Regions from separate parts of the Homo sapiens genome. Here region 1 is linked to region 2. The links come from fine-mapping of genetic effects on gene expression. A gene starts in region 2. The other region holds a variant in brackets. All regions are shown on one strand. Distances are from middle to middle.

Evidence for each region. PIP is the estimated chance that this variant, and not a neighbour inherited with it, causes the effect.
Region 1: its variant is fine-mapped to the expression of SART3 in whole blood (INTERVAL, PIP above 0.99).

Annotation. Positions count from the first base shown.
Region 1 is chr12:108,526,899-108,529,916 of GRCh38, reverse strand. All of the region lies in intron 15 of SART3 (spliceosome associated factor 3, U4/U6 recycling protein), which reads left to right. Among named protein-coding and RNA genes, the nearest start is that of FICD, 13 kb to the right of the region's middle. The variant C/A (reference allele first, on the strand shown) is at 1,409.
Region 2 is chr12:108,559,905-108,562,404 of GRCh38, reverse strand. It overlaps SART3 (spliceosome associated factor 3, U4/U6 recycling protein), which reads left to right and starts at 1,232. Exons shown (of 19, transcript NM_014706.4): 1 at 1,232-1,562. The coding sequence starts at 1,251. It also overlaps a transcript of ISCU not described here. RefSeq lists enhancers at 70-129, 984-1,083, 1,094-1,153.

The DNA.
Region 1 (3,018 bases), 33 kb after region 2:
GATAATGTCCTTTGTAGTGAAAGGATCCGGTTCAGGATGCACTATTGTGTTTAGTTGTCCTGTCTCCTGGATCTCCTTGAGTCTGGAGCACTCCTCAGCTTTTTTTTTTTACTCTGATGACCTGCAGTCTTGTAAGGGGGCAGGCCAGTTGCTGTGTTGTGCCCCTCAGCCTGGGTGTGTCTGATGCTCCCTAAGCATTGGATTCCACTCATGCATCTCGGGCAGGAATAGTGCACAAGTGCTCCTGTGGCCTGCCCATTGAGTCCCATCAGGTGGACTGTGATTCGCTTTGTTCCATCACTGGTGATGACCCTTTTGAGAATTATTTATGCTGATTCTCTACTTATCCCAGGTTTGGCTAGCAAGAGTTCCTTCACACAGGCTTCTATGTCCCTTTGACCTGTCCCCTTGTTCTTTGATCATTTCCTTACCTTCTAGCACACAATACCCAAGGGTCATCTTATACTTTCCATAACTCAGCCCTGGAATCCATCATTTCTCCAAGGTTCCTTTGAGTGATGAGTGGTATTTAGAAGGTGCTAGTTGTGCTCACTGCTGTTGGTTATTGTTCTGAGGCCTGAGTGGTCGAGGGTAGGGAGTGTGTGTGTGTGTGCGTGTGCGTGTGCATGTGTACACATATTTATGACCATATTTACTTGTGTAACTATTTGTATATACTGAAAGTCATGATTTCACACCAATACCTCCAGTTCCGGTCTAACACCACAGGGTTCCCCTTCACACTTGCAATGCCCTTCTCTCTCTTTTTAAAATTTATTTATTCATTTATTTTTGAGACAGAGTCTCGCTTTGTTGCCCAGGCTGGAGTGCAGTGGGGTGATCTTGGCTCACTTCAACCTCCGCTTCCCGGGTTCAAGTGATTCTTGTGCCTCAGCCTCTCAAGTAGCTGGGATTACAGGCATGCACCATCATACCTGGCTAATTTTTTGTATTTTTAGTAGAGATCAGGTTTCGCCATGTTGGCCAGGCTGGTCTTGAACTTGTGGCCTCAAGTGATCTGTCTGCCTCGGCCTCCCAAAGTGCTGGGATTACAGGTGTGAGCCACTGTGCCCAGCTGTGTCACGCCCTTCTCTGACCTTGAGAAACTTGGCTCCCTCTATTCTCAGCATCCTCAGTTACTCCACCCGGCCCCTGTAGGTATGTAATCAACTTCCTGTGCCTGCCTCCCCTTCTCATATGTGCCATCCCCACCCTGTTTGGTCTCCCACACCCGGGGCCAGGCACGGCCCTGCATGGACACCCTTGCTTCTTTCACTCAGGCTTCCAGATCTAGGCTGCTGGGTCCCTGTCACTGCCCCATGCCTGCCTGTCTTCTTCCTTCCATTCAGGCTCTAGCATCCCGCACCACTGCTGCAGCCCCAACCCTGCACAGACCTGCCAGGCTTGG[C/A]CCTACTTTTTTTTTTTTTTTTTTTTGAGAGGGAGTCTCGCTCTGTCGCCCAGGCTGGAGTGCAGTTGCGTGATCTCGGCTCACTGCAACCTCCGCCTCCTGGGTTCAAGTGATTCTCTTCCTTCAGCCTTCCAAGTAGCTGGGATTACACTTTGCCAGCCACCATGCCCAGCTAATTTTTGTATTTTAGTAGAGACGGGGTTTCACCATGTTAGCCAGGCTGGTCTTGAACTCCTGACCTCAAGTGATCCTCCCGCCTTGGCCTCCCAAAGTGCTGTTATTACAGGCATGAGACACTGCACCTGGCCTTGGCCCTGCTTTTAATGGTTCTGACTTAGTGGAATTTTCCAGCAGTGTTTCTTTCACCCTTGTAATTTCAGGGACGGGCAGCTCTGGGTCATATTTATTTCAGAGAGTCAGTCAAGGTAAAGAATTGTCTCTGGTGGCTGGGCGCGGTAGCTCATGCCTGTAATCCCAGCACTCTGGGAGGCTGAGGTGGGCGGATCACCTGAGGTCAGGGGTCAAGATCAACCTGGCCAACATGGTGAAAACCTGCCTCTACTAAAAATACAAAAATTAGTTGGCTGTGGTGGCGGGTGCCTGTTTTCCCAGCTACTCGGGAGGCTGAGACAGGAGAATTACTTGAGCCCGGGAGGCAGAGGTTGCAATGAGTAGAGATCATGCCGTTGCACTCCAGCCTGGGAGAGAGAGCAAGACACTGTCTCAAAAACAAAACAAAACAAAAAAAAGAATTGTCTCTGGACTTGAAAGGACTCTGTATACTTTCTTAATACAGATGTGTGAGCCAGAGAGAACTGGGAATGGAGTCATCCATCGTTGAGTTGACCTTGCTTGCACACCTTGTTTGGGCTTTCCTAAATGACTGAGGATGGCTCATTGCTCCACTGGCCTCCCAGTTTGGCAGAATAAGGCAAATGTGATGTGTGACCGCAGTGGTGTGTGATCAGGGCATGGCGTGTGATCAGGACTGTGGGAGATGGCATTGTTAATACTGGTGGAGGCCAAAGAAGGCACTAGTGGGTCAACTTCGTACCAGGAAGACTGTGGGGGAAGAGATGCGGCATCCAGGGGGAAGACCGAGTGACTGTGGCAGCGAGAAGGGAAGGTCTGAGCTACACAGGGAGGAGCCAATGTTAGTACAGCCTGAAGGCACAGCACAGCCTGGCATTTTCTGTGAGCAGCAGATAATTGGGTTTGAACTCAGATGCATTAGAGAGGGGTGGGGCAGTGGTCGAGGAGGCTGGAGTGGTAGGTGGGCCAGTCAGCTGGACCCAGCCCAGGGACACTCTTGAATACAGTAGCAGTGTGCAGGGCTTACGTTGCATTGGAAAGGCAGCGGGTGAACTGATGGGGAGGTCTGTTTGCCGGAGGCTGATGTCTGTTGAGCTTCAGTACTGGCCCTCTGGAGGCAGTGGTGAGGACAGACTGCAGTAGAAGATTGTGGTTAAGCTCTCTTAAGGACACAAGGCCATATTGAAAGTGTTTTAGAAACCACAGATCCTTTGTAGTGCTTTCCAAAATGTGCTCCCTGGGGCACGGGTATCAGTCACTAGGGTGCTTTTCCAGTGCAGATTCTCATGTCCTATCCC
Region 2 (2,500 bases):
CTTGTCCTGGGTGCTGGATTCTGGTTGAGACAGGACCTCAGGGCTTCTGCAGTGTGGGGCTCAAGTTCGCTTTCACAAATCCCGCTGCGGGAATGCGGCGCAGAGGAGCACCGAGTCCACTTTTCCTAACCCTATTTTGCAGCTAAGGAAGCCGAGATTCAGGGCAGTTTAGTAAGTCCGTCCAAGGTCGCTAAGGACTTATGTTCAATTAGAATTCGAACTTGGGTAATCCTGGGTTAGAATCCTGGTTCGGTTCCTTCCTGGCTGTGTGTCCCTAGACGAATGGTACCGGCTCGCTGAGTCTGAATCTTCCCTTTTGTATTAATTCGAGGACAATTGCTTCATCATGAAGCCAGCATCTGTGTCGAGTACCTACTATGTGTCAAGGCGCTCTACTAGACCCGGGGATCCAACGGAAAGCAAAACAGACATAATTCCTGCCCATTAAGCCTGCTAATGAGGGAGCAAGGTAGAGATAGAGACACACACCAATACTTTCCTACCTCAAAAATGGGAAGCTTAAGAAGGAAACGAATACCATGTCCTGATTGAAAAAAAATGAATATGTCTATTTTTCTCTCTAAAACAACAGCAAACTCAATTTATATGTCAGTGCCTAGCAATTAAGAATTTCTAAAGAAATGCGTATTAATGTAATTTACTGTTGGTTTGCAGTATGTGATCTTATAAAACCGGAAAACTCACGTGTATTTAACGTCTACTAGGTACCAGACGTTTACATAAAGGGGAGGAATCTGGGAAATGGATTTTTCTCTTGAATGGTGAAATCGATCCTTCCCCGAGGACCTGCAGTTTTCTTTGCGTTTGAGGCGCAGTTGCTGGGGAGAGTAAACCCAAGCGCCAGGTCACACTAGGCGATAAGTAAGGCATTTAATCGAAGAATCACTTTGACCTTCTCAAGATGGCGCCAAATTCTTCACTACAGACATCACTCTCGCTCCATGACTTCCTCTATGGCTTCCACTTCCTGCCCAAAGACCCAACTTCTGTCCGAAGTTGTGACGGAACGCATGCCATTATAATGAGTTTTTATATCTGGTGGGAGCTTTTACAGGGTATAAAATAATGTGAATTTAGTGTATGTGGAGATTTTCCTGTTATCTAAGTTCCCAGTTTCTCTTTCAATGGCAAGAAAACGGGTTTTTGATAAGGCGCGCGCCGCGGGCAGCTTCTGCCTCAGCGGGTCTTCGGCGGCCGCGGGAAGACCCGAGAGTCATTAGAAGCGCAAGATGGCGACTGCGGCCGAAACCTCGGCTTCAGAACCCGAGGCTGAGTCCAAGGCTGGGCCCAAGGCTGACGGAGAGGAGGATGAGGTTAAGGCGGCTAGGACAAGGAGGAAGGTGTTATCGCGGGCTGTGGCCGCTGCGACATACAAGACCATGGGGCCAGCGTGGGATCAGCAGGAGGAAGGCGTGAGCGAGAGCGATGGGGATGAGTACGCCATGGCTTCCTCCGCGGAGAGCTCCCCCGGGGAGTACGAGTGGGAATATGACGAAGAGGAGGAGAAAAACCAGCTGGAGATTGAGAGACTGGAGGAGCAGGTGGGCCCGGGGGTGGGCAGCGGGCATCTTCCAGTCTTTCAGGTCCTCGGGTCCCCATGTCCTGGCCCGCCTCCCTAGTCCTCGGCGGCGATAAAGCCGCCAAGGCTGCAAACCCGCTTTTCGTGACAGTAGCTCCTGTCGGATTTGAGTGCTTACTGCCTGCCCATTGCCTTGCAAACGTTATCTCATTGAATCCTCGCCACGACCCTGTGAAGGAAGCCCTGTTATCTATCCCCATTTTACTGGAGGAAACTGAGGCTCGTGGAGGAAAGTTTCTTGCTCAAGATAACACTTCCTGCAAGTCAGGCCTTGTACTTTGATCCCATTCCAGAACTCCCACTCTTAACCACACGTCCAACAGTAGAAATAAACTCATTCGCAAGAGAGTGTTATTTTGTTATGTAGGAATGACGGCGATGATGAAACTTGTGGTAAGAAAAATATTGACCGCGATGGTGATAATAGAAATGGAAAGGTTTCTGGTTCTGGAGGTTAAGGCCTCAGTTCTAGCTGTTCAACTCTTGTATGTGCTTGTAAGAATTTCTTAATTTCTCTCACCCTCTCGACTTCCTTATCTGCAGATTGGGAGCAACAATTTCTGCATAATATAATTGTTGTAACAGTAACTATAGCTCAGTGCCTAGCATCTAGTCATAACATGGTCTCTCACTTGTAACCTTATGAGGTGGTGATATCTACTGTATAATCCAGGATCTCAGCAGGAAATAGGTGGCACATTTAAATTAGGATGATCTGAGAGAAACTCAATAAAGGTGTGGGTAGGGAAATCGGGAGTGAAGGTTTAGTATCCCATAGCTGGTAACTCCAGAACCTGGTGTCCATCTTTGGGCCGGAAGGGGTGAAGGGTGTGATCTGAATTGTGTGGAGAGGGCACCTGAGACCTGCTGATAACTTTGTTCAAGGGAAGCAGCCCCAGT